Linked DNA regions of Homo sapiens: region 1 is linked to region 2. Evidence: fine-mapped expression QTL. A gene starts in region 2. The other region holds a variant in brackets. All regions are shown on one strand. Distances are between the middles of the regions. Region 1 holds the start of LOC105375072 (a long non-coding RNA gene). Region 2 holds the start of CAPN11 (calpain 11).

Evidence for each region.
Region 1: its variant is fine-mapped to the expression of CAPN11 in sun-exposed skin (GTEx, PIP 0.98). The same link has a PIP of 0.9 or more in whole blood.

Annotation. Positions count from the first base shown.
Region 1 is chr6:44,177,856-44,193,658 of GRCh38, forward strand. It overlaps CAPN11 (calpain 11), which reads left to right. Exons shown (of 23, transcript NM_007058.4): 13 at 1,764-1,775; 14 at 2,097-2,308; 15 at 2,605-2,644; 16 at 2,742-2,807; 17 at 2,893-2,950; 18 at 3,078-3,142; 19 at 3,397-3,465; 20 at 5,086-5,164; 21 at 5,264-5,380; 22 at 5,850-5,908; 23 at 6,051-6,546. The coding sequence ends at 6,077. It overlaps LOC105375072 (a long non-coding RNA gene), which reads left to right and starts at 8,128. Exons shown (of 3, transcript XR_926835.2): 1 at 8,128-8,203; 2 at 8,953-9,025; 3 at 11,854-12,086. It also overlaps a transcript of MYMX not described here. The variant T/A (reference allele first, on the strand shown) is at 7,203.
Region 2 is chr6:44,152,783-44,166,345 of GRCh38, forward strand. CAPN11 (calpain 11) reads left to right here and starts at 6,038. Exons shown (of 23, transcript NM_007058.4): 1 at 6,038-6,082. The coding sequence starts at 6,067. It overlaps TMEM63B (transmembrane protein 63B), which reads left to right. Exons shown (of 24, transcript NM_018426.3): 21 at 894-1,061; 22 at 1,291-1,406; 23 at 1,583-1,663; 24 at 1,910-2,737. The coding sequence ends at 2,101. It overlaps LOC107986599 (a long non-coding RNA gene), which reads right to left and starts at 5,821. Exons shown (of 3, transcript XR_002956350.2): 1 at 5,803-5,821; 2 at 2,419-2,550; 3 at 1,056-1,195. RefSeq lists an enhancer at 7,215-7,384 and a silencer at 8,768-8,857.

The DNA.
Region 1 (15,803 bases), 26 kb after region 2:
ACAGCCCTGATTTTTTTTTTAAGACAGGAGCTCAATCTGTTGCCCAGGTTGGAATGCAGTGGCGTGATTACGGCTCACAGCGGCCCTGACCTCCCAGGCTCAAGCAATCCTTCCACCTCAGCCTCCTGACTAGCTAGGACTACAGGCAATTGTCCTGCTAGTTTTTTAAAATTTTTCGTAAGATAGGGTCTCACTATGTTGCCCAGGCTGAGCCCTGACTCTTGAATGGTGCTTTGTGCCTTTCAAGCCAGAGCCGGCAGTTTTCTCTTCACAGATTTCATCCTTTGTGCCAGGCATTGTTCCAAAGGTCTTAGGAATACTAACTACTAATGCCTTTAAGGAAGCGGAAGGAGCCTGCGGGCCAGAGACATGAAGTCACTTGCCCAAGCTCACACATCCAAGGGTCAGAGGCCAAGCCTGTGTCCTGATTCCCAGGCGCTCTGAGACTTCTCCACACGCCCCGCCCGACAATCCATCCCCCTTGTCTGCCCCACCAGCAGTACTCACTCCAGGAGCCAAGAGAAAGCCCTGATAAGCATTTCCCAAGCCAAACCATGCTTTGCAAAATTCTCCACATTCTCCAAAAGAATGTTGTTCATTCACTTGCATTCCCTTATATAAGCAAGTATTTATGGAGCATCTACTGTGTGCCAGGCCCCTGTCCAGTCTCCAGGGGTTCAATAGTGAGCAAAACAGACACAAGCCTTGCCCTACTCTTAGGGCCATTAGTCCACCAGGCTAACAGACTGGTGCCTCAGGATAACATTTTTGCTGGGGGAGGTGGCTCATGCCTATTATCCCAGCACTTTGAGAGGCCGAGGTGGGAGGATCACTTGGAGGATGCCCAAAGAATTTAACACCAGCCTGGGCAACACAGCAAGACCCTGTCTCGATTAAAAAAAAAAAAAAAAAAAAAAATTAGCCGGGCATGGTGGCACACACCTGTGGTCCCAGCTACTCGAGAAGCTGAGGTGAGAGGATCACTTGAGCTCAGGAGGTCGAAGCTGCGGCAAGCCATGATCGCACCACTGCTCTTCAGCCTGGGCGCAGAGTGAGACCCTGTCTCAAAGACATCTTCAAGGTTAAAAAAGCTCAGGAAAGACTACTGCAGCCTGAGCTCTCCGGTGCACACAAGCACACTGAGGTGCTGATAAGCCACCTCTGCAATAGAGCAACCTGTTTAACTTGGTTTAACTCACATTTTTACAAACTTATTTGTCCTCGATCCTCAATTTTAGTAATCTTCTATTCACTTCCTGCAGGATATGAGTGTTCCACGGAAAAGCAAAACACTGTCCTAGATTTTTATCCTAACTCTTTCACTTTTCAGCCATCTGAGGTTGGACAAATCACCTCACATCTTTGGGATTCTGTTTCCTTCCCTTAACCTGGAATGATAAAAATCTACCTTGCATAAACTGTACTTTCCTATCCAAAGCTGAAGGAATTTTTTTTTTTTTTTTGAGACAGGGTCTCACTCTATTGCCCAGGCTGGAGGGCAGTGACATGATCGTGACTCACTGCAGCCTTGACCTCCAGCTCAAGCAATCCTCCCACCTCTGCAGCAGAGGGATTGTTAATGCCAGGACCTTTGAACTGTCAGAGCCCGTGCCCCACTCCACCACCAGTATCCCAGTGCCCTTAATACCCCTCCAACAACACACACACACAGACACACACTATACACATCCCACTTGGCTTCTGAAGGCCTGAGGCCCTTCACCACCCTAGAGATCTGACTCTCCTCTTTCTTCCCTTCCCAGGTCCCAAAAGAGGTACAGAAGATAAAGATGTGGGGCTTGTTCCTGGACACATACCCACTCCACCCCTGGCTGCAAGTGGATTGGCAAAGGGTGGAATTTGGCGAGAGGCTCTGGGGGTCACTGGGTTAGGATTCCAGCCCTCTTCAGGGCTGGTAGGGGTCGGGAAAGGAAGAGACCCTGTTGGAGTTGCGGGCCACTTAGATGGTGTCCAGGCCAGGTCAGTTGGTGGTGGCACCTACCTCCAACCCTGCCCGGCCAGGCTGTTCACCCTGGGGGACCCTCCCTCCCTAACCTCCCATGCCAGTCCTGTACCCACTTCCAGGATGCATATAGTTTCAGAACATTCAGGATGTCCACTTGAAGAAGGAATTCTTCACGAAGTATCAGGACCACGGCTTCTCAGAGATCTTCACCAACTCACGGGAGGTGAGCAGCCAACTCCGGCTGCCTCCGGGGGAATATATCATTATTCCCTCCACCTTTGAGCCACACAGAGATGCTGACTTCCTGCTTCGGGTCTTCACCGAGAAGCACAGCGAGTCATGGTAAGGGGCTGCAGCTCACTGCTCCAAGGCCCGCCACCCAAGAGCTGCAGGATATCAAGCTCAGGGAGCTGCTGTCGGGTCCTCCCTCACTTTGTCCCTATTTTACAGTCAGGGAAACTGAGGCATGAGAAGGTGAAGTCCCAGTTAGTGGCAGAACCAGAACTAGAACTAGAACCCATATTCCATGGAGCTGCCCTATATTGCTTCAAAGACATGACATGACCCCCAGAGCACCCCACTAAAACCCCCACCTCCCTCCCCCTGGTAACTCTTGAGCTTTCAATCATTTTGCCCAGGGAATTGGATGAAGTCAACTATGCTGAGCAACTCCAAGAGGTGAGGGGAGACTGTAGGGCTGGGGGTTGGAAGGAAGCTCCTGGGCCTGTGAAAGAAGTTTTCTGACCAGGTCCCTTTCCTGCTCCCCGGCCCCCAGGAAAAGGTCTCTGAGGATGACATGGACCAGGACTTCCTACATTTGTTTAAGATAGTGGCAGGAGAGGTGAGCAGGCCACGAGCGGAGGGCTGACAGGAGGGGGATGAGGGGCTGGAGGGGCCCGAGTGGGGTTCACAGTTCCCCTTCCTAGGGCAAGGAGATAGGGGTGTATGAGCTCCAGAGGCTGCTCAACAGGATGGCCATCAAATGTGAGTCTTCCACTCCTGCTGCACACGACCCCTCCCCCATATTTTGTGCCCCTCTTGATCACTCCCAGTGCCCCCACGATACCTCATTTACCCTGTCTCTCCTTTCTACCCCTTCCCTTCCTCACAGTCAAAAGCTTCAAGACCAAGGGCTTTGGCCTGGATGCTTGCCGCTGCATGATCAACCTCATGGATGTATCCTCCTGTCCAGTGCTCTCTTGGCCCTGTCCCCTGCCCACAAGCCTGGCCCAGAGATGGCCACCCTGGGCCAGCCACGTCCTCCTCCCTGATGGGGATTAGGCTCTGGGGTAGCAGAAGATGCCAGTTCTTCTGGCTGCTACAGTACCGGAACCCCAGGGCTTGTGTGTCCCCTCAGGAACCCCCGCTGCTTCCCTATCCCCTGGGATGCCTTCTTCACTCCTTCTCTGCTGTCCTTGACCACCTTCCAGAAAGATGGCTCTGGCAAGCTGGGGCTTCTAGAGTTCAAGATCCTGTGGAAAAAACTCAAGAAATGGATGGTAAAGGGCACTAAAGGGGCAGCCTCCAGGGGTGAGGAAAAGAGGGTCTTAGGAGAGATGGAACTAATGAGGGGAAGCTAGAACCCAAGCCCTAACCACACACACACACACACCCAACCACACCACACTCACACACACACACACACACTCACATACAGACACAACCACACCACACACACACACACACACTCACATACAGACACAACCACACCACACTCACACACACACACACTCACATACAGACACAACCACACCACACATACACACTCACATACAGACACAACCACACCACACTCACACACACACATACACACTCACATACAGACACAACCACACCACACTCACACACACATACTCACATACAGACACAACCACACCACACTCACACACACACACACTCACAGACACAACCACACCACACTCACACACACACATACACACTCACATACAGACACAACCACACCACACACACACATACACACTCACATACAGACACAACCACACCACACACACACACACTCACATACAGACACAACCACACCACACACACACATACACACTCACATACAGACACAACCACACCACACTCACACACACATACACACTCACATACAGACACAACCACACCACACTCACACACACACATACACACTCACATACAGACACAACCACACCACACTCACACACACACATACACACTCACATACAGACACAACCACACCACACACACACATACAGACACAACCACACCACACACACACACACATACACACTCACATACAGACACAACCACACCACACACACACACACATACACACTCACATACAGACACAACCACACCACACTCACACACACATACACACTCACATACAGACACAACCACACCACACTCACACACACACATACACACTCACATACAGACACAACCACACCACACACACACACACATACAGACACAACCACACCACACACACACACACACACACACACACTCACATACAGACACAACCACACCACACACACACATGAAAAGGGTCTGTTGGAGTGTGGCATATTACCCAGTCAAAATATTTTATAACAAGTATAGCTCAGGTATCATCTAGTCATGAAGGATGCACACAAAGAGCGCTGGGCAGGGCACCAGTGCCCCCGACAACCCATGCTTGGAATTAACCCTTAGGTCACCAGATGATAGGAATATCAGGAGTGGGCCAGGGTTGGAGGGGGGCATGGGGTCTTAGGCCACTGCTGTGAGCCAACTGTCCTAAAGTATTTCTTTTTCTTTTTTTTGAGACGGAATCTCACTCTGTTGCCCAGGCTGGAGTGCAGTGGTGCGATCTCTGCTTACTGTAACCTCCGCCTCCTGCCTCAGCCTCCTGACTAGCTGGGATTACAGGCATGCACCACCACACCCAGCTAATTTTTGTAGTTTTATTAGAGACGGGGTTTCGTCATGTTGGCCAGGCTGGTCTCAAACTCCTGACCTCAGATGATCCGCCTGCCTCGGCCTTTCAAAGTGCTGGGATTACAGGCATGAGCCACCGCGCCCGGCCTCAGTATTTCATTATTTCAACCACCATGCCATGCATGTGGCCCTACCATATCTGTCTGTCTCTTCAGGACATCTTCAGAGAGTGTGACCAGGACCATTCAGGCACCTTGAACTCCTATGAGATGCGCCTGGTTATTGAGAAAGCAGGTGGCCAAGGGTCAGGAGTGGGCCTTGGGGCAGGGAAGAGGATGGCAGTGTCCAGAGGCCCAGACTTTTCCCCTCCCCACTTCTCTCTCCCTCTCTCAGGCATCAAGCTGAACAACAAGGTAATGCAGGTCCTGGTGGCCAGGTATGCAGATGATGACCTGATCATAGACTTTGACAGCTTCATCAGCTGTTTCCTGAGGCTAAAGACCATGTTCAGTGAGTTAGGCATCTACCCACTCCCCAGCCTAGGCCAGGGGCCGCGGGCCCTTTCCCAAACACCCACCCTGATGGGTGCTGCTCCAGATCCCCTCCCCCTTACAAGGCACACATGAAATGGATTCAAAGCCCAGCTCCGCCACTTGCTGGCAGAGGTGACTTGAGCAAGTCACTTAATCTTTCTGTGCCTCCATTCCCTCCTCTTTAGAATGTGGATAATAATAGTACTGCCCTCAAAGGACTGAGGTGCAGGTTAAACCAGTTAGTCTATGGAAGGCAATCAGAACTGGGCCTGGCTCCTGGTGAGGCTATGTGAGTTGCTATCATTAATTCCCCACTTGGCTAGGGGATTTATGTGGGGAACAGCCAGGAACACCTGGTGTCGCCCCTTCCTACCTAGTTGGGAGTGGTTCTTTCGGAACACTGACTTAGCATTCAGCCCCTCTCCCCCGCTTCCTCTGTAACGCAGCATTCTTTCTAACCATGGACCCCAAGAATACTGGCCATATTTGCTTGAGCCTGGAACAGGTACTTGGAGAAGGGTGGGAAGGAATCTGCAGGATTGCACCTGCCTGCCCCTCAACCCCACCCCCACCCAGCTCTGATGTCCCCGGGCCAGCATCCTGCCCCCGTCTCTTCCCACCCTGGGATCTGCTTCCTGTCTCCACAGTGGCTGCAGATGACCATGTGGGGATAGAGGCGCTGTAGGAGCCTGGTCATCTCTACCAGCAGCAGCAGCAGCGAGGTTCTAGCCCAGGAGGGTGGGGTGCTTCTTGTAGCCCTCAGCTCTCCGGTCTCTGCTGATGAAATGGGCTCCAGGTGGCAGTGCCCGGGTCCCAGGTGCCGTGTTTACTGCAGCAGTGGGACCTCCGTGCCCACTCCCCCAGCTCAGAGGCTTTCTCTTTTTTCCCCAACCCGGCTTCTGATGGCTGGCTTTCCCCCACCATCGCTCTCTCAGAGTATATTTTACTAAAGAGTAGTTGATGCTTCCCCAGGGTCCCCCTGGCTGGGGAGGCCAAGAATAGGGAAGGGACTTGTAGCCCGTTTCTTACCCTCCATGCTTGCTGTCCTGCTCACACCTACCTGCTGACCACCCATCCTGGCACAGCCTCTGTTTTCCTCCCCATCTGTGGATACTATTCTAATAAATAGCACATGCCATTGGCTTCCATGTCTCTGTGTTTTTATGCCAAGAAAAGACTGGCAAGGGTGGAAGTCACTTACCCAGGACCAAAGGATTGGGTAGCTCTCAGCCAAGGGTGATAGGGAGCATATAGAAATGTGCAGTTGTCACAATAACTAGAGGCCATAGTTGGCGTTTATGGGCAGTGCCAGATGCTAAGCACACAAGTCCCTCCCTGTGAAGAACTGTGTGGTGTGCCCTATGGTGGAGCGCTTCTACGGGGGCTGAGCCAGGGCTCCAGGACTCTCATCTGCTGCTTCAAACTGGGGTCCCCAAAGGTGGCACTGCAGGAGCCTCGAAGGTTAAAAATCTGACACCTGCAGCCAGCAGGTCACATAAATGAACGAACTGCCGGGCGCGGTGGCTCACGCCTGTAATCCCAGCACTCTGGGAGGCCAACGCAGGTGGATCACCTGAGGTCAGGAGTTTGAGACCACCCTGGCCAACATGGCAAAACTCCGTCTCTGCTAAAAATACAAAACTTAGCTGGCCGTAGTGGCACGCGCCTATAATCCCAGCTACTTGGGAGGCTGAGGCAGGAGAACTGCTTGAACCTGGGGGGTGGAGGTTGCAGTGAGACAAGATCATACCACTTCACTCCAGCCTGGGTGACAGAGCAAGACTCTGTCTCAAAAACAA[T/A]TTAAATAAATAAATGAACAAATCCTCCTCGTGTGGGACTGGGAAGGCTGAGGACTGTGGCAATAGGTGAACTCGTTCCTGCCTTAAAGGTGTTCAGATTCAAATCATTATTATTATTGTTAGAAATTTGTTGCCTGTCCACTTACTAAAACCTCCCTTAACTATCCTCCACCTTATCCAGAGAAGCTTCTTCTTTTAGAAAATCAAGCAAAGCAACTAAGTCAAGACATGTTAAAAAAAAAAAAAGTATGAAAAGAAAGCTGTAAGGAAATACAAGGGGAGGGATTGTTAGATATGAGTTCTAAATTTCTTTTCAAAGAATTAATATGTCAGTATGTTCAATTCTTTGCCTTCTATTTTTAAACTTCACTTCCTCGTAAAGCAACCTTTTCAATTACCTATTCCACCCTGACTCATTCCGATCACCTGCTCCACCCTAATTTATTCCAATCACCTGCTACCTGCTCTGCCCTGACTCCCACCAAAGCACTCACCCTGTCAGTCTCTTTAAATTAGTCAATCAGAATTAGTTTAGCCTGTGCGGTCTAACCCTAGCCAATAGGGGAACGACACAGCAGCAGGGGCCACGTGCATCAGGGATAAGAACCCCTTCCCCTCCCTTGTCCAAATGTGTGCTCACCATTGTTCCATCTATAAGGGCGCACGCTTCTATATAGAAGTAACTTGCCTTGCTGAGAATTAAAAAGAAAATTAAAAAAAAAAAAGAAATTTGTTGCTTGTCAAGCTACTGTCCTTGCAGGAGGCATGGAAGAAACACTTATTTCTGGGTCCACCTGTTTTTGACCTCGGGGTCTCTGTCCCAGGTGCCCACACCCCAACTCCAGCCCCAGCCCCCTGCAGTAGTGAGAACACCCAGGCCACTCACAGCAGCCCCTAAACTGTACTTCTCCTCCTGTCCTTCCAGAGCCCTCCACAGCCTCCCCTTCTGGTTTCTGGCAGGGACACTGGAGCCCAAGCACATGCGCTTCTCAGCCTCTCAGGTAGAGACAGCACCCCCAACTTCCCCTAGATTAGAGATCTGTCATCCCCAATGAAGCTAAACCCTTCCTGTCTCTGTGTACCTGTGCAGCTTCCTGGGGTCGCTAGCTTCCTTCCACGTGCACTAAACCCAGCCCTTGTGTGCTTAGTGAGGCAGGTGGGATTCTGATCTTCCTTAATCTGGTGACTGATTGTCTGCACCAGCCCTGGCCCCTGCCTTCTTTGTGACTTCAAAGACTAAAGCTAGTCTGCCTGGATATAAAGCCGCCTTCCCTCCATTATCACCACCCCACGCCGCCTTCAGAGGAATCGTTTCCTGTCCTGTCAGCCCTCCCTGCTTCCTCTCCGTCTCCAGTCCTGCCTGAAAGAATAGGTCACACTCTCTTTGGAGCCTCTTTGAAAGACTGTTCTCCCACTTGTCGTCCTCCCTCTCTCTCTAAGAGATGGCAGCCACCACCTGCTCTCCACAGAGCTTCTCTGAGTGATGAGCAAAAGTCCCCAGAGAGAGCAGGGAGAGGTCAGTGAGAGCCTCAAGCTAACAGGTCCATGCTGGGCATGGTGGCACATGCCTGTAATCCCAGCTACTCGGGAGGCTGAGGAGTTTGAGACCAGCCTGGGCAACACGGGGACTCCATCTTTTAAAAACAAAAACCTAGCAGGTCCTTTGAGACTCTGAGAGGTCCCGGGCAGTCCGGATTGGTTCTGGGAACCCTAGGAAGATGCTGACCCCACCTCTTGTTCCATGGCCTAGGGTGAAATGCTGCCAACTTCAAGCCAGGATGGAAAGGAAGCAGAAAACTCTCAAATCAGGACTATCCCTTCCGGTTTGTAACAAAGCTGGTTACTCACGAACACTCTGTAAACATAAAATGAAGCAAACTTCACATAAGTAGAGAGTTTATTTGGGCTAAACTTAAGGATTGTAACCCTGGAGAATAGATTCAAATTATTCTGAATATACATCCCGATTAGCAGCAGTTACAAGTGGATTTTTAGGCTGGGTACAGTGGCTCACACCTATAACCCCAGCACTTTGTGAGGCTGAGGTGGGCAGATCACTTGAGGCCAGAAATTCAAGACCAGCCTGGCCAACATGGTGAAACCCCATCTCTACTAAAAATACAAAAAATAGCCAGGCGTGGTGGCACACGGCTGTAGTCACAGCTACTCGGGAGGCTGAGGCATAAGAATCGCTTGAACCCGGGAGGCGGAGGTTGCAGTGAGCTGAGATTGTGCCACTGCACTCCAGCCTGGGTGACAGAGTGAGACTATCTCAAAAAAAGAAAAGAAAAAGTTAGCCAGGACTGGTGGCGCACACATGTGGTCCCAGCTGTGTGGGGAGCTGAAGTGGGAGGATCACTTGAGTCCAGGAGGTCGAGGCTGCAGTGAAATGTGATCATGCCAATGCACTCCTGCCTGGGTGACGGAGCGAGGCCTTGTCTCAAAAAACAAAAAGGTTTTTGTTTTGTTTTGTTTTGGGGTGTGTGTGTGTGTGTGTGTGTGTGTGTGTCAGGGCCTCTCTTTGTCACCCGGCTGGAGTGCAGTGGCACAGTTTTGGCTTACTATAACCTCTGCCTCCCGGGCTCAGGTGATCCTCCTGCCTCAGCCTCCTGAGTAGCTGGGACTACAGGTGCACATCACCATGCATGGCTAATTTTTGTATTTTTAGTAGACACAGGGTTTCACCATGTTGGCCAGGTTAGCCTCAAACTACTGACCTCAAGTAATCTGCCCCACCGCCCACCCCCCCGAGCCTCCCAAAGTGCTGAGATTAAAGTCATGAGCCACTGTGCCCGGCCCAAAATGCATTTTTAAAGGTAAAAAAGGGCTGGGCATAGTGGCTCACGCCTGTAATCCCAGCACCTTGGGAGGCCGAGGCAGGCCGATCACGAGGTCAGGAGTTCTAACCTGCCCAACATGGCGAAACCCCGTCTCTACTAAAAATACAAAAAATTAGCCAGGTGTGGTGGTGGGCACCTGTAATCCCAGCTACTTGGGAGGCTGAGGCAGGAGAATTGCTTGAACCCGGGAGATGGAGGTTGCAGTGAGCCAAGATTGCGCCATTGTACTCCAGCCAGGGTGAGAGCGTGAGACTCCGTCTCAAAAAACAAAAAAGAAAAGAAAAGAAAGGTAAAAAAGGAGGACAGTGAGTGGAATGATACAAAGTTATTTGTTAGGAATTCTCACCGGTTTTCAGAAATAACATTGATTAGTTATTGGCTATAGTGTCTGGTGTCCCATTATTAGGATAATTTATAGCTACCTGTAGAAGTAGCAAGCAGTTTCAAGAGATGAATACATAACTTAAAGGGGAGTGCAGGGTATAGGGTGCAATTGTGTGTCATGTTACTGTCTCTCTGGGTCTGATAATTAAAAGGATTTGCATTCCTCAGATAAAAGTTATTTTTATTTTATTTATTTTTATTTTTTTGAGACAGAGTCTCTCTCTGTCGCCCAGGCTGGAGTTCAGTGGCGCGATCTCAGCTCACTGCAACCTCCGCCTCCCAGGTTCAAGCGATTCCCAGGCCTCAGTCTCCCAAGAAGCTGGATTACAGGCACCTGCCACCTCACCAAATAAAAGTTATTTTCTTTTCCCAACAATTTGCATAGTGGCTTAAGGTGAAGATTCACGAGCTATGTGTCTTTGGGCAAATTATTTTACCTTTCTAACAGAGTATCCTTTTGAATCTGTCAATTAGAGGTGACAATTCCTATCTCAGAGGGCTGTTGTATGGACAACTGCGATAATGAAAGTGAAGCACTTAGGCATATCATTCTTTTTTAAAAAAACTTTGATATTATCTATAATAGTAAAAAAATAAAAAAAACAAATTTTCAATTGTGAACATGTTATAGCCAGGAGTGGTGTGGGTCATGCCTATAGTCCTAGTTACTCGGGAGGCTGAGGCAGGAAAATTGCTTGAGCCCAGGAGTTCAAGGCTGCAGAGAACTCTGATCAAACCACTGCATTCCAGCCTGGGCAACAGAGGGAGATTCTGTCTCAAAAATAAATAAATAAATACACATTAGATGTTACACACGATAAAATATCAAGCCATTGAACTAAATAACACAAATGGCATGAGGGTTATGACATACAGTTGAATAAGCAAGATGCATATTAGATTTACAATAGTCCTTGACATTAGTGTTTACCATTTGCTTGCATTAAATATTATTAGCAATGGCTATATACAATGTTATTTAAAATTTGGAAAATGAGGCACACCATTCTTCTAGTCCCTTCAGGCTCCATTTCCATCCAACTTCACTGCAACTCCATCCCAGCTCAGCCTTAGTGCCCTGGGAGGCCATTCCCACTATGTCCTTGCTGTCTCCAAGGGACCTGTAACCACAGGCAGGCAGCCCATACTTTCTAGTCCCTTTTAGTCCTCTGCTCATAAAACCAGGTGGCTGAGTTTTGCTGGGAATGGGCACTAAACCATGCTGCCTGCATCCTCCTGATTCATGCTGGTTGACCTCGATGGAGGCCACGTGGCAAGCTAGATTTCTTCTCCTGATGACTGACTGCCATTCTCCACACCCACTGCCCTGATTTCCCCCAGACCTCTCACTACAGCCTTCATTTTTACTGCAAAGAATGAGGCTACATCAGAGAAACAGCCTCAACCCCACTTCTCTTCTCCCTCAGAATATCTTCGCAGCTTCATCCTCTGGTCTCTGAGAAAATTGGGTCCCAAATGTGCTTGAAAACCATGGAATGCCATGCAACAGAAGCAGCAGACTAGATGCCACCCAGCCACAGCTGTAGAGCCTGAGAAGATGCTGAGTGAAGAAAAAGTAAAGCAGGATGAGCTCATTAGCTTCTTTTGTTTTTTTGTGGTTGCTTTTTGTTTGTTTTGTTTAGGTACAGGGTCTCCCTCTGTCGCCCAGGCTGCAGTGCAGTGGTACAATCATGGCTCACTGCAGCCTTGAACTCCTGGGCTCAGGTGATCTTTCTGCCTCACTCTGCCATGTAGCTGGGACTATGGGTGCACGCCAACATGGCCAGCTTTTTTTTTTTTTTAATTTTTTGTAAAGACAGTCTCACTGTGTTGCCCAGGCTGGTCTCGAACTCCTGGGCTCAAATGATCTTCTTGCCTTGACCTCCCGAAGTATTGAGATTACAGGCATGAGCAACTGTGCCTAGCCCAATAGCTAGCTTATTTTTAAAAGCAATTTTAAAATATATATCTTGGAGATATTTTTCTATTAGTATATAGAGAGCTTCCTTTTTTTTTTTTTTTTTTGAGTTGGAGTTTTGCTCTTGTTGCCCAGGCTGGAGTGCAATGGCGCCATCTCGGTTCACTGCAACCTCCACCTCCCGGGTTCAAGCGATTATCCTGCCTCAGCCTCCCGAGTAGCTGGGATTACAGGCACCCGCCACCATGCCCGGCTAATTTTTTATATTTTTGGTAGAGACGGGGTTTCACCATGCTGGCCAGGAATGGTCTTGAACTCCTGACCTCAAGTGATCTGCTCGCCTCGGCCTCCCAAAGTGCTAGGATTACAGGCATAAGCCACCGTGCCTGGCCGAGATCTTCCTTATTTTTTTTATAGCTGTATAGTATTGCACTGGATTAAAGTCTCGTTATTTAGCAGTTCTTTGTTGACAGTTTTTTCCAATCTTTCATTATTATAAATAGTGCTGCAATAAATAACACTATACATGTTATTTTATCCCAGTAAAATATTTTTATACAATAAATTTCTAAAAGTAGGATTATTGGGCTAAAGAGTATGTATATCAGTAATTCTGAAAAAAAGGAAATTCCCCTCTATAAGGGTAATACTAATTTGTACTCCCACAAGCAAGATAAGAGACTGCCGTTTTCCCCTACAGACTCATAAACACCGTGTGTGGGCAAGTTTTTACATATTTCTAATCTGGTAGAAGAAAAATGGTATCTCAGCATAGCCATAATTTGCATTTCTCTTACAGCAAATGAGATTGAGCAACTGTTCATTTTTTGCTTTTGCTTGCATTTTATTTTCTATGAACTATCTCTTTATATTCTTTGGGAACATATATGTTATATATATGAAATATATGTTATATATAACATGGTATATATGTTACATATATATGTGTATATATAACATATGTTATATATTAAATACATATATTATATGTAACATATATGTTATATATATGTTCCCAAAGAATATAGAGTTACATATTTTATATATATATATATACATTTTTTTTTAAAGGTCTCACTATGTTGCCAGGCTGGAGTATGGCAGCTATTTACAGGGGGGATCATCAGGCACTATAGCCTGGAACGCCTGGGCTCAAGTGATCCTCCTGCCTGAGCCTCTTGTCCTTGCCCATTTTTGTACTGGACATTTTTTTTCTTTTTCTTTTTCTTTTTCTTTTTCGAGACAAAGTTTTGCTCCTGTTGCCCAAGCTGGAGTGCAATAGTGTGATCTAGGCTCACTGCAACCTCTGCCTCCCATGTTCAAGCGATTCTCCTGCCTCAGCCTCCCAAGTAGCTGGGATTACAGGTGCCCACCACCACGCCTGGCTGGCTTTTATATTTTTAGTAGAGATGGGGTTTCACCACCTTGGCCAGCCTGGTCTCGAACTCCTGACCTCAGGTGATCAGCTCCCCCCAGCCTCCCAAAGTGCTGGGATTACAGGCGTGAGCCACTGTGCGCAGCCCGTTTTTGTTTTTTCTTATAATTTTTTTTTTTTTGAGACAGAGTCTCACTCTGTCTCCTAGGCTGGAATGTAGTTGCGGGATCTTGGCTCACTGCAGCCTTTGTCTCCTGGGTTCAAGCGATTCTCCTATCTCAGCCTCCCGAGTAGCTGGTATTACAGGCACGTGCCACCATGCCCGGCTAATTTTTGCATTTTTTAGTAGAGACAGGGTTTCTCCATGTTGGCCAGGCTGGTCTTGAACTCCTGACCTCAGGTGATCTGCCCACCTCAGCCTCCCAAAGTGCTGGGATTACAGGTGTGAGCCACCGCACCCGGCCTCTTCTTGCTCTTTATCAGTGCCTCTGTGTGTGTGCGCGCTTGCGTGTGTGTGTGTGTGTGTGTGTGTGTTTATTTACAAAGTAATTTCAAAATAATTGTCTTAAACTGACTCCATCCCTGTGGGAGTCTGTAACTGCACTTTCCTACCTGTTGGACAGCTCTCTGGGCTTATTCTGTCTTCCAAGGAAGGTGAGTGAGGTGCTGACGTGGGAATCTCCAAGTTCCCATCCTGCTCATCCCCACAACAGCTTCATTCTCTCCTTGACCCCCCTTCCCCCACCCACTTTTCTCTTGCCCCCCATCCACTCCCTCCAGAGACGTCAAACGCTAGGTTTCACAGGGCTTCAGAATCCTGTTGGGAACCTGGATCATCACCTCATCCACCAAAAGGGTCCTGGTTTCCCTGTTTCTGTAAGTGACACAGCCAGGAAGGACGTCCAGGACTCGCCTGAGCATTGTGGCTGGCTGACGCCTCAGGTCCGCTAAGCATTTCCTGAATTCACCCCACTGTCTGGCTCCCGTCTGCTCCTATTCTTCCTCACCTGAACCCTAACCCCCTCCCTACAGCATGGATAGAGGGGCTGTTTGTCACATTCTACCCATTCTTCATTCCCAGGACACCCCCTCTTTTCTTCTTGGAAGCCCTCCTCTCTCTCTGGCCACTCCTCCAGGCCTCGGGTTAAAGCTCCACCCTCCAGGAAGCCAGCTCTCACTTTTCACACATTGGCCAAGTGTCCTGGACTCCTAAGGTGCAGGCCATTTCTTTTTCTGTCTTGTAATTTCCTGTTTCCTCCTGCCTCTCCTACTGACCATATCTTGAGAGCAGGACTGTCTTTTTCTCTGATGTACTTCGAGAGCCTGCACAAGAGTGTGTTGACTAAAGCAACCAATGGCGGTCCCAGCTAACGTGACCGCTTCCTATTTTGAACTTCAAAGCTCTCCATCCAGGATGCCTCTTAAGGGCCAAAGTGCCCCAGCTGGAATTGGAACCCTCCCAGGTCTGATGCACAAACTTTTTTACCTTGACTGTCTTCCTACCACCCTTTTCTGTCACCGAGGCCCTCTCTGAACTTCAGTTTACTCATCTGTCAAGGAAGAGAACACTCAGGGGAAAATTATAAGGGCCAATTGAACCATATACTTGTAAATAATAATAGGATAAATGAATATGAGCTCTGGGATATAACAAAGAGTGCTACTAGTCATTGAATATTTACATTGTTATGTTTTCTTTTTCTTTTTTTTTCCATATAGAGTCTCGCTCTGTCACCCAGGCTGGGTGTAATCCCAAAGTGCTGGGATTACAGGTGTGAGCCACTGCACCTGACATGTTTTCTATACCAGGTACCATTCTAACATTCAACCTGTATTATGCCCTTAATCCTAACAAATTGGCTCCATTTCACAGAAAAGTGAACTGAGGCACAGAATGGCTAATGACTTATTTGCCTAAGATTCCACACTGGCAGTAGAGGAGCTGGGATTTGCACGTGGGCAGCATAGCTCCACAGTCCATTTGCTTAACTATCACCCCATATTGTCTTTCTATGAAATAATACTATTCCTATTATTTGGTCTCAGAGCTGCCCTCTCCACCTAAAATGAATCCAATCACACAG
Region 2 (13,563 bases):
CGAGTGGACAGGGCCCGGCTGGGAGACCGGCCCCTCGGGGCTCCCGCCCGGTCCCTGGCTCAGTCTGGGGCCTGGCCTGTGGGGAGGAGGGGGAGAGCCATCAGCTCAGGCCAGACCCAGCTGGCATGTGGGCCCCAGGGCAAAGTCACACCAACATGGCCATACTTACCCACACCTGTGCCTTCCCTCAGCGGGATGTGCTTGGACACAGATCACATACGTGCTGACATGTTCACACACACACTCCCACACAGGCATCCATGTGCACACTTTTACACCACCCTGTAAACTCAGGAAAGACTTGGATTCCAGGGTGGGATGGGTCCTTGCCACTCATGGAGATAGTCTGCTGTATCTGAGCTATGTGACTTGGCCAGGTCTCTCTTCCTTTTTGAAGTTTAGCAAAGTTTCTCTTTAACCATCACCCCCACTGGTAGCCTCTACTTTCCTCCCTAATAACATCCTAACTCCTTAACCAACCCTCCCTGGTTATTGAAGGCTCCAAGTTCCCAAACTAACTTCCTTGTCCTCATTAGAAACTCCCTATCCCTCAGCCTCTGGGGAAATAGAACTTGTCCCTTAATTTATACGTATCTGTTTAGGGACAGGGTTAGAGAAAAATGATACGGGTTTTAAGAAGATGCTTGTTGATTCAAATGACTAGATTTCCAATAGTAGAATTCCTGATGAGGAGAGTAGAATGAGGGGTTGTAGCGGAGGAAGCTGAAGTTCTGTGATCACGCTGGGGCACGGGGCACTATCCCGTCCTGGGGCCCGGGCAGGAGGAGGGGGCCAACCCTTCAGCACTCTCAGGACCAGAACAACCTGTGACAGACACACAAAAGGTTCGGCAGCACTGGTTCCGAGGTCAGGGCCCATGTGGCTTCCCTTAGGGCTCATGTACATGCTGCTGAAGCACCTGGTAGACAGGTACAATCTCTACTACGCCTACCTGCCGGCCAAGCTGGACAAGAAGATCCACTCGGGGGCTGTGAACCAGGTGGTGGCCGCGCCCATCCTCTGCCTCTTCTGGCTGCTCTTCTTTTCCACCATGCGCACGGGTGAGGGATCCCTACCCAGGGAACGGGGGGTGGCGAGCAGAGTGGATTCCAGCCAGAGCAGGCCACAGGAGAAGCCGCATGGCTGGGGGTGGCAGGCAAGGGGCCTGGGAGAGGCTGGGGCCAGTCTGTAGCACCTGGGAGAGTGAGGACTGCATTCAGAGGGTATCAGAAGCTGGGGTGGGGAGGCCCACAGGAGATAGCAACCCCATTCTTTGCCCCCCAACACCAGGGTTCCTAGCTCCCACGTCTATGTTCACATTTGTGGTCCTGGTCATCACCATCGTCATCTGTCTCTGCCACGTCTGCTTTGGACACTTCAAATACCTCAGTGCCCACAACTACAAGGTGTGGGGCAAGGGTGGCAGGCGGATGGCTGCGGGCAGGAGCTCAAGGGGAGGAATGCAGAGGGCCACAGGGCTGGCGAGGGCTGAGGGCAGCGCCAACAGGGCCAAGCGGGCGTGGGGTCATGATCAGGGCTGAGGACATGCCCCCACTTCCTGACTCATTCTGGGCCCCTCAAGATTGAGCACACGGAGACAGATACTGTGGACCCCAGAAGCAATGGACGGCCCCCCACTGCTGCTGCTGTCCCCAAATCTGCGGTGAGTGCCCTCAAGGGTTGGGAGGGGCCTCTGACAGACTCAGCCTCAAAGCCCAGTGTTCCCTTAGTCCTGCAGAAAGGGGAACCTGTGCCAGACCCCATGGGGGCGGGAAGAGAGCTGGTCTCCCTGGAGGGCTGCCCCCGCCCCCCAGGGCCCTGCCCACTCTGCTGTCCTACATGCCCTGGTGTTCCCGCAATCCATGAGGGGCAGCTGTTCACCTTGCCCCCATTTCCTCTCCTCCTTCAGAAATACATCGCTCAGGTGCTGCAGGACTCAGAGGTGGACGGGGATGGGGATGGGGCTCCTGGGAGCTCAGGGGATGAGCCCCCATCATCCTCATCCCAAGATGAGGAGTTGCTGATGCCACCCGACGCCCTCACGGACACAGACTTCCAGTCTTGCGAGGACAGCCTCATAGAGAATGAGATTCACCAGTAAGGGGAGGGAGGGGCCCTGGAGGCCACATCCTGCCCCACCCCACCCCCACTCCCACGGACACTAAAACGCTAATAATTTATTAGATCTAAAGCCCCTTCCTCCCCAGCCCCTGCTTTCATTAAGGTATTTAAACTTGGGGGTTTCACTGCTCTCCCCCATGATGGAGGGAGGGAGCCCCCCAACCTCAGTGAGGAGAGCCCCGAGCCGGCCCCGGGGCAAAGAGGGGTGCAGAGGGAGTTCCCCCAGATCAGTACCCCCCACCCCTCCCCAGCTAGTAGCATGACCAGGAGAGGGTTAATGAGAGCCAAGAGGAGTACCTGGTGCACCTGGTGCCGGTGGCTGGAGACCTGGGGGGCAGGTGGATCTGGGGCTGTTCCCCCCCCTCCGTTTTTTCCACCCCACAGTTCCTCCTGGGATCTGGCCCTCCAGGGAAGTGGAGCCTCCAGCCCCTAGGGGATGCATGAGGGGGGAGGGGGTGCTGAGTGGGAGGAAGAGTCAGGCTCACAGCTGGGGTGGCCTGGGGGTGGGGGTGGGCAAGGCTGACACTGGAAAATGGGTTTTTGCACTGTTTTTTTTTTGGTTTTTTTGTTCTTTTTTGTTTTTTTCCTTTAAAATAAAAACAAAGAAAAGCTCTGAGGCAGGTGTCTGACTTGTGCTGCCCTGGGCACCTGGGCCGGGTCCCCACCCTCCTATCTGGAGGGCCTCTTTGAGGTCCCTGCATGACGCTGGGCAAGGGACTTGTTCAGAGTCTCATTTCTGTGTCACTGAGAGGAGAGAGTGGGGCTGGGGAGAGACTTAAGGGATATCTCAGAGGCAGGAAGGGCCCCTGTGCCCAGGTGGCCACCATACCAGCCTCGCCCACTCTGATCATTCCCCTGAGTCCCTGAGCAACACACATGGGACAGAGATTCAGGGAGAAAAGGTCGTGCAAAGCCACAGGGTCCATGCTGGGCCAGGACGAAGGCCCTTCTGAGCACCTCAAAGTAAGCCTGGCGCCAGCCCATCTGTCCCTTCCCCAGGAGGGCCTGATCTCCTCAATGAGAAGCCCCCTCCCACCCTCCAGTCAAATCTTACCCATTCTCCAAGACCCAGCTCAAATTCACCTTCTCGCCAGGCGCGGTGGCTCACGCCTGTAATCCCAGTACTTTGGGAGGCCAAGGTGGGTGGATCACTTGAGTTCAGGAGTTCGAGACCAGCCTGGCCAACATGATGAAACCCCATCTCTACAAAAAATACAGAAATTAGCTGGGCATGGTGGTGCACCCCTGTAATCCCAGCTACTTGGGAGGCTGAGGCATGAGAATCACTTGAACCTGGGAGGTGGAGGCTGCAGTGAGCTGAGATCATGCCACTGCACTCCAGCCTGGGCGACAGGGCAAGACCCTGTCTCAAAAAAAAACAAAAAAAAATCACCTCGAAAAAAGGTCCTGTGACTGCTGTAGCCCACCCTGCAAAGGCCCACAGAGCCATGTGGTGCACACCCACACACATGCACACACAGCATGTACTGCATGTACTGTAGGAGGCCTGCATTCCAGTCCTTATTCTGTCACTAAATCACTTTGCAACCCTGAAGAAAAGGAAGAAAAAGGAACTCTTAGAGGGAAGAAAAGAGACCTCAGAGGAGGAGGAGAACCAGGTTCCACAAAAGTCAACAGGAACCACCAACAGCAGGAACAGCAAACACAGCAAGCCTGATAAAGATTGCCCAGGCGCCAGCAAGGAGCAGGAGCAAAGAGCGCCCAAGGTCCAGCCCCAGGCTGCAGGGAGCTGCGGCAAACACAGCTTGGAGGGTCAGTGTTTATGGGCGGGCTGTGGGTGGAGGATGGGCCAGTGACAGTGGAGGTGAAAGTTGAGGCCTTGGTCCTGGCCTCAGCCTGCATATGTATGTCAGATCTGCAGTTGTGAAACATGAGCTCCCAGGTAGAGTCCCCAAAGTCTTGGGGCCAAGGGAGTGCCTGCTGGTGGTTGGACAAATATTGGCATGGCTTTGAAAGGAGCACCTTGGTTGTGTGAAGGCTTCTCGGTGCTCCCGAAGCCTGTTTTCCGTATGGATGGGCAGGCACACCACCGCCATTTGCCTGGCAAGCCCCCTTGTCTGCAAAGCATGGCCTGGACAGACCTCAGCCCCCACCTCTGGTTAGCCGAGACCCTCTCATTCCTCATCTGCCCAGCATGCCTTCCCTTTCCTGCAGGGCCTGAAGTTCAAAGCCAGGTTCCAGCATTTCCAAATGTGAAACTCCAGATAATGCCCAAGCAGCACACTGAGCAAGAGTCCTGAGGACAGCCCTCCCCCAGGGTGGGAGGCTGTAATAGAGAGGAACACCCGTGCCTGCCTGCACCCTACCCCTGGCACCTCGTCACAGAGTTCATGTCCAGGCAGATCACATTAGAGGCATCCAAGAGGTGCAATAGTGGAATCAGGAGTGGGCAGGGGAGACCACAGGATCCCCAAAGACCACTTCCTCCTTTCACAGCTGGGGGCAGCAGAAGATACGGATAAGAGCTAAAGTTATGGCCGGGCACGGTGGCTTATGCCTATAATCCTAGCGCTTTGGGAGGCCGAAGCGAGTGATCACCTGAGGTCAGGAGTTCGAGACCAGCCTGCCCAACATGGCGAAACCCCGTCTCTACTAAAAATACAAAAATTAGCTGGGCATGGTGGTGGGCACCTGTAATCCCAGCTACTTGAGAGGCTGAGGCAGGAGAATCGCTTGAACCCGGGGGGCAGAGGTTGCAGTGAGCTGAGATTGCACCACTTCACTCCAGCCTGGGCAAAAGAGCGAGACTCCATCTCAAAAAAAAAAAAAAAAAAAAAAATCTGAAGTTATTAGTTTAAATCCTGGCTCGACCGCTTAACAGCTGTGTGACCCTGGGCAAGTTGCATCATACCTCTAGACCTCACTTTCCTCATCTATAAAATGGGAATAGCAATGTCATGGCCTCTGGCTGTTTTAAGGATTAAATAAGTAGGAAGTTCTTAGCCCAGTGTTTGGCACATAATAACAAACCATAATTAATATTCTCGTAGATGAGGAGATTGAGTCCCAGAAAGGAGAAAGGGGGAGGGCTCGCCCAAGGTCAGCTCCTGTTTCAGAGCTTGGAACAAGGTTCTCTGATCCCATTGGGTGCTCTCACACCTGTTCTGTGCCTGATTAGCACCAGGCAGGGCTGAGGGGCACTGGGATGACCTTGACAGTCCCTGTCCTCAGCCATCATACACTCCAGAGAAGACTGCACTCTGGAGCAGAGTTCTTAGCTCAAAGCATTCCCACTTTCCAGTGCAGAGGCAGGACATGTGGTCAGACCAGTGGCCTAACCTTGCCAGACTGGGGCTAGGCAAGGAGAGTGTTGCAGGTGGAATCGTGTCCCCCAAAAAGGCATGTTGAAGTCCTGGCCCCCAGTACTTCAGAATGTGACCTCATTTGGAAACAGGGTGGTTGCAGATGTAATTCGTTCAATTAAGATGAGGTCATACTGAAATGCATGGGACCCTAGCCCCATATGACTGGTGTCCTTATAAGAAGAAGAGACACAGAGGAGGGTGCCATGTGAAGACAGCAACACAGGAAAAATGCCATGTCAGTGAGAAAGGGGCTTTTGGGAATGAGAAGGCTTTCTGGATGTAAAGGTCAGGTTGGTGTGTCAGGGACAACCCCTTCCTGGAAACCTTGGGCTGAAAAAAAGGGACTGGGACCTACCCTGATGGGATGACCGTGATACAGTGAGGACAGCCAGGCTGGTGGAGGCTGTGCAAGGCAGGGGTGCTGGGTCATCTGTCCCTAAAGCGGGTAGCCCTCAGCTGGGTAAGGGGCTGGGTTACTGAGAAGGAGAAAAGGGAAGGCAGCTGTTAAACCGGCTGCTGACCTAGGAATCCCACTGCAATGAGAGAGTTCTGGGGGGAGGGTCTCTTCTCCCCCTCCCACCAGAACCTTCAACTGTCAAGCACCGAGCTAGCCACCAGCATGCTGTACTCCCCAGGTAGGCACTCATGGGGCCTTGCCCCACTCCTGTACCTCCTGCAGGCTAGAGCCTCCCCCCAGGGGAGGAGCTGTGTCCCGCATCAGACTGGGTGCCCCTTGAGGGTACAGAGAGTGACTCTTCCATCAGACTGGATGCCCCTTGAGGGTACAGAGAGTGACTCTTCCATCAGACTGGATGCTCCCTAAGGACAGGACCTGGGCCTCGTTCTCAGACTGTTTGGGGAAGGATAGGCCACTGGTGGTCAGACTGGGTGGTAGGCCGGGCAGGAACTCTTTCTCCTCTCCACTGACAGTTGGAGTTGGGGAGAGGAGAGGGGCCGGCCATCCCACTGTCATGGCTGCTGGGGAAAAGGGTTTGTGTGAAAAAGCCCACGTAGAGAAGAAAACTTTAGGGAACAGAGAGAACCTCTCCTAAGCCTAGAAAAGCAGGTCCCTCAGCCCAGGAAGATGAGATCCTCAGGGTGGCAGGGGCAGGACTACCTGAGGCAAGCCTGGGACCAGACTCCAGGAGATGGGGGAGAGTGGGCTGGGGGGAAGGGGAGGGCTGGGCAGAACTGAGTTGTTCCTGTGGGGCTAGGGTGCACAGAGGGCAGCCAGCCTTGGCCAGCAGAAGGTCAGCCCTGTACCTCACCCTCAGCCTGGGGCACCGTGAGACCATGGGCCCCTAGACCCAGCCTCCCAGCTTCTCAGGCCCTCCCTGTTTACCTGACCCTAGGAAGTTTAGGCCTAGCTGGTGACCCCAAACCCAGTCCTTGTTCTTCAGAAGTGCCCTGAGCCCAGGAGTTCAAGACCAGCCTGGTCAGCATAGCAAGACCTCATCTCAAAATATAATTTATTTATTTATTATTATTACTTATTAGTATTTATTTTTTTTTAAAGTTCCCTGACACAACATCTTAGTTTTTTCCCAGTGCCGGAAATCAAACTGTCCTTAAATCTATAGTCCCCTAATAACAATGTATTGCATTTAGAAAATCACTGAGAGAGGCCAGGCACAGTGGTTCACGCCTGTAATCCTAGCACTCTGGGAGGCCAAGGCAGGTGGATCATCTGAGGTCAGGAGTTCGAGACCAGCCTGGCCAACATAGTGAAACCGTGTCTCTACTAAAATACAAAAATTAGCCATGCGTGGTGGCGGGCGCCTGTAATCCCAGCTACTCGGGAGGCTGAGGCAGGAGAATCTCTTGAACCCAGCAAGTGGAGGTTGCAGTGAGCCGAGATCGTGCCACCGCACCCCAAGCCTGGGCGACACAGCGAGACTCCATCTCAAAAAAAAAAGAAAATCACTGACAGTAGATTTTAAGTGTTCTCACCACAAACAAATAACAAGTATGTGCAGTAATGCAGATATTAATTAGCTCAACTGAGCCATTCCACAGTGAATACATATTTCAAAACACCATGTCGTATACAACAGATATATACTTTTTTTGTCAATAAAATAAAACTGATTTAGTTAAAAACGATCTGGCCGGGCGCAGTGGCTCACGCCTGTAATCCCAGCACTTTGGGAGGCCGTGGCGGGCAGATCACGAAGTCAGGAGATCGGGACCATCTTGGCTAACGCGGTGAAACCCTGTCTCTACTAAAAATACAAAAAATAAGCCAGGCGTGGTGGCGGGCGCCTGTAGTCCCAGCTACTCGGGAGGCTGAGGCAGGAGAATAGCGTGAACCCAGAAGGTGGAGCTTGCAGTGAGCCAAGATCGCTCCACTGCACTCCAGCCTGGGCGACAGAGTGAGACTCCGCCTCAAAAAAAACCTCAAAAAACAACAACAACAACAACAACAAAATGATCTGTAGGTTCTCAGTCTGATGGAGGAGACAGGATGTGCAGCTGCAGCAGAAAGCTTCCTGTCCATTCATGCCTTTTAACATGCAGCAGCCCCTGCTTTCCACGCAGTTTCAGTTACCCGCTGTCAACTGCAGTCTGAAAACATCAGGATATTTTGAGACAGAGAGACCACATTCACATTACTGTTATTGTATTGTTGTATTTGTTATATTTTATTACTTATTATGGTTAACTGCTTACTGTGCCTAATTTATAAACTAAACTTTATCATAGGTATGTACATAAAGGAAAGACATAGTATTGATATATACAGGGTTTGGTACCACCCGCAGTTTCAGGTGTCCACTGGGGGTGTTGGAACGTACCCCTAGGGTTAAGGGGAGCTACTGTGTTGCTCTGGCCATCTGTCTGTGCTTCCCACAGGCAGCCTTGGTCTGTCTGTCTCAGCCTTCTCACGCTCCTAGCCCATGTGACAGCTTGGATCTTTTGCCCTCTCTAAGGGGATATTTTCTTTTGGGTTTTTTTTTTTTTTGGTGTTTTTGTTTGTTTGTTTGTTTTGAGGTGGAGTCTCACTCTATTGCCCAGGCTGGAGTGCAGTGGCCCAACCTTGGCTCACTGCAACCTCCACCTCCCGGGTTCAAGCGATTCTCCTGCCTCAGCCTCCTGAATAGCTGGGACTACAGGCATGTGCTACCACACCCAACTCATTTTTGTGTTCTTAGTAGAGACGGGGTTTCACCATGTTGGCCAGGCGGGTCTTGAACTCCTGACTTCAGGTGATCCGCCCACCTCAGCCTCTCAAAGTGCTGGGATTACAGGCGTGAGCCACAGTGCCCAACTTAAAGACATTTTCCATGACAACTGTGGTGGTGTGGATAGGTGTGTCAGTCCTTCCTGCAAGTCAGAGCTGAGTAATGACCTCACACCCTGGGGACTGGGTATGCAGCTTCGAAGCAGGGTTTGGGGGCCAGACAGTGAGAAATGACTTGTTGGGCTGGATGGTGACTAGGGGACAGAGGGCTCTGGGGAAATGAGACAAGGGAGTTAAGATGGAACCTGAATTGCCTTGGCCTGCCCTCTGATGTTCTTTCAGTCTTCTCAAACAACAGCATCTTCCCTGGTCCTTCCAGGCCCCCAGGAGAGCTCAACACCCTCAGTCCTCGGAGCAGCCAGGGTAGAGGCTGCCTGGAGTGACTGCACGGTGCAAGGGCATGGAGTGGTTTGCCTTATCGTGTGAATGACCTTAGATGATTCGCTCAACCCAGGTTTGTCAACCCCAGCTCTCTTGACATTTTGAACTGGAAAATTCTTTATTGTGGAGACTTTCCTCTACACTGAGGGGCGCCCAGCAGCATCCCTGGCCTCTACTTACTAGATGCCAGTAGCTCCCCTGAGACCTGCCCCAGTTATGACAACCAACACTGCCTCTAGACGTTGCCACCTGTTCCCTGGGGGCCGTAATCACCCCGGGTTGAGAACTTCTGACTCAATCTCTCTGTGGAGGCCCTGGCTTCCACCCAGCTCAGATGGGAATAGTCATCCTGATCCGCCAGCTTCACAGATAGGGATCAGGGGCTGAAACAGAAGGTGTTCAGCTCTCCCCTCTCAGGACTGCTTTCCACCCTTCCCTCGGAACCCTCTTCATCTGAAAGGGGCTCCACTGTTTAACCCCGCCCCCGCAGCCCCCCTCACAGTCTCTTTGAATAAAGACACACACACACACACACACACACACACACACACACACACACCTGTAATCATAGCCCGAGGGGGTGAGGGAGCTTCCATTACCATTTCTAAGATAATCCCAGAGGGCTTGGGTTAGAAGAGACAGGGTTTGAGGAAAATGGAGGGAGAAAAGAGCGAGGAGAACTCCCAGACTCTGGCTCTACCCACCCTCTTCCCTGCTTCCCAGCCCTGATGCTTCCAGAACCAGGACGTCAAAGTGCACCCCACCCTCAGGGGAATGGGATGTGCTTAGAATAGGGAAAGGGGGATAGTCATTCCCCCACAGAACCTCCCTGATGATCCCATCAACCTGGTGGCCCCTTTTCATGGCACTTTCTCCTGTCTTTGCGGCCCATGGAGCTGAACCTGGGGGAGGAATCGCATGGGAGGGTCTTCTCCACGCTCCATGTTGGGGGTGCATTCACTTTGACCCCTCAGTACCAGCCCAGAATAAATTCTCCATAAAACATGCCTAACACGAGTTAGGGTTTGCTCTCAGGAGCTCAAACCAGTGGCAAAGACAGACAAGCACACACATGACTCCAATATTGGAGTAATATCACTAGTATCATTAAATCCTATGATGGAGGGACACATATGTGACACAGAGCATGGGCCATGTGATCCTAGAAGGAGCTCAACAAATACCAGTTGACCAACTAGGTCAGTGGGGAGAAGGTGAGTAACGTTTTCTGAGCACCTGCTAAACTCCAGTCTTTTTCACACGTTGCATTCTTCAATCCTGAAACACCCTCGCAGGTAGAATGCAGCAGCCTCTATACACAGGTGAGGAAACCAAGGCTCAGGGAGGTCAAACAACTTGCCCAAGGTCACACAGCTAATTCTCTGGCTCCAGTGCAGCCCAGGGCATTAGCTCTGCTAAAAAGGGACAAGCCACCCCTTTTCCAACACCTTTATCCATCCTCAACACCCCCTGTCAGCTGCTCCACACAGGGGAAGTGACTTCACAAAGACCACACACAAGTTGCAGTACAATGGACGAAGGGGCCGCACCAAGGCCAGTTGACTCACTCATCCCTCTCCAGCACAGCCATGGCTCCTCACCATGGCGACCTCCCAGCAAGGCAGCGAGCCTGATGGCTGAGAGCATAGAGCAGCCTGCCCTGACTCTAATGCCCACCGAGTCTGAGGAATTTCAGCCTCTCTCTGCCTCAGTTTCTCTGTCTATAGCAGGGAAGTTATAAGAGTAAGCCTAACCAGTGGGGTTGTTGGGATGATTCAATCAGCTAATGCACATCGGGTGTTTAGAATAGTGCCAGACATGTAGTGAGCCCTCAAACGCTGCTAACTATTATTATTTTTAGAAATGCTATATAAGTGCTCACTACTCATAACTGAGGCAGGATTCCTAATATCTTCTCATCACAAGTTACAGGCTCTGTGGAGAAGCAAAATTCAGGATCCTGAGTCTCCTCAACCTTATTATTTTTTGTTTGTTTGTTTTTGAGATGGGGGGTCTCACTTTGTCACCCAGGCTAGAGTGCAGTGGAAGGATTATGGCTCACTGCAGCTTCCAATTCCCAGCCTGAAGTGATCCTCCCACCTCAGCCTCCCAAGGAGCTGGGACCACAGGCACATGCTACCATGCCCAGTTAATTTTTTTTAATTTTTATTTTGTAGACACAGGGGTCTCACCATGTTCCCCTTGCTGGTCTCGTGAGGCTGAGGAGGGAGGATTGCTTGAGCTCAGGAGTTTGAGGTTGCAGTGAGCCATAACTGTGCCACTGCACTGCAGCCTGGGGAACAGGGTGAGACTCTGTCTCAAAAAAGTGTATCTATGTTGAACACTTACTATGTACTCAATACAGCAGCAGGAATACAGCAGCAAACAAAACAGACAAAAATCCCTGCCCTCACAGGCTTTCACTCATGAGGGAGGTAAACAATAAACAAAATATATAGTATATTGGGGTTGCTGCAGGATAGGGAGTAGGGGAGGGGTGGAAGAGAGAAAACATCTATGAACAATTAACCACAATACCAAGCAAGGCATCTGTTCATTCATTGCAAGCATTATTGAGCCAGCATTTTGAAACTCAGTAGTATACAAGGTGGCCTCACCCTCTCCTCTTGAGAGCTCACAGCCTCACAGAGGAGGCAGACAGGTCAACTCAGGGAAGGCAGGTAGTGATGGGTGTCCTAACAAAAGTGTAGGATGCTAGCGCAGCCCCAAGTTCTGCGCGGACACCACAGGGGAGGCTTCACAGAGGAGGCAGCATCAAGCAGGCACTGGGAGGCTGAACAGGACTTTTCCCCGGTGGACCCAGTGTGAGCATGGGATCAGGAATGATTGCAGGCAGAGGCACAAGGATGGGAAGAGGAATGAGGGTAACCTGTGCAGAAAGTCGTGGGGCCAGATGGCAGGTGGAAGCCTGGTTTGGGTTTGTCATGCTAACAAGGGAGAGACATCTAAAGTACTGGGGAGGGGGAGCGGTATGTATAATCAGGTTTGCATTTTATTTTATGTTATGTTTTATTTATTTATTTATTTATTTTTGAGACACAGTCTTACTCTCTGCCACCCAGGCTGGGGTGCAGTGGTGCTCTCTCAACTCACTGCAACCTCCACCTCCCAGGTTCAAGCCACCTCCTGCCTCAGCCACAGGAGTAGCTGGGACCACAGGTGTGCACCACCACACCTGGCTAATTTTTGTATTTTTAGTAGACACGAGGTTTCACCATGTTGGCCAGGCTGGTCTTGAACTCCTAGCCTTAAGTGATCCACCTGCCTCAGCCTCCAAAAGTGCTGAGATTACAGAGGTGAGCCACCATGCTGCCCCAGGTTTGCATTTTCAAAATCTCAGCTAACACTGTGGAGAACTAGTGGGGGAGGAGGATGTTAGAAGAAAGGGGCCAGTTGGGGAATCATTCTTTTGGCCTAGATTTTTGCTATTTAAGGTTAATTTATTGAGTGAGTTTTGTGTCAGAAACAAATGCAAACACTTTAGAATATCACCCATCTCACAGGTGGAGAAGCCAAGGCATGGGGAGATAAAGTGATGTTTTGGGAGGCCTCCCTGTGAGGGGATGCTTGGCTTCCAGTCCTTGCTTACTGCACTGGATGTGGCTCTGCACAGGGGCAGCCCCTATCGCGGGCTGTGTGGAGGAGGACAGGAGAGATGCTAAGAGGGTGCAGTAGACAATGCAAGGGACATAGTGACAGGGTCTGGGAAGATCCCCAGCTCACTGGCTAGGTGGAGGGAAGGGGAGGATGAGGTTGAGGAGACTGCTGGAGGGACTGTCTCTCCTGGGGCACAGAGCTCAGGAAAGCTGCTTGGACAGACAGGGTCTCCCCAAGTCTGGAACACTCAAGAGGGGTCAAAGGGATGGGTCTGTACTGGGAGTAGTGGGCCCAGGGCTGGAGGGGGCTCTGGGGGCTGGCCTTATCCTGCTGGCAAAGCGATGTCCTGAAAGTTTCCAGAAGCAGTAAAGGGTTCAAAACCTCACTCAAAGGGAGTTGGTGTGGTATGTGGTCGGGGGAGCATATGTGATGAATTGGAGAGGGTCTTCAGGAGACAAGAGGCCATTTGAGGTCTGGGGGTTGTCTGAAGGCCCTGGCCTCGGACAGTGATGGTAGCAATGAGAAATTAGGGTCCTAGGAGGGGATGCCCTTGTGAAGGACTCCATGACTGTTTTGATGTGGGATGCGGTGTGTTGGGATCTTGGGGGACCAGGAGAACAGGGGTTCATTATAGGACCTGAGGAAATCCCAAGGAGGTACTCGTGTGGAACAGGAGAAGGGGTTTGCTTGGGGCAGTGGCAAGAGGAAGGGGGATAAGTTCAGCAATGAATCATCTGTCGATGCCTTTGTTAACAGAGATGGGGCAGGTTCTGCCAGCCTTCAGGCTGAGGAGAAACACTTCCCTTCAGGAGGCTCAGCATAGAGTGAAGGTTGCTAGCTTGGTCCAGGGTCTGCAGTACGGATTTCACCCCGCGC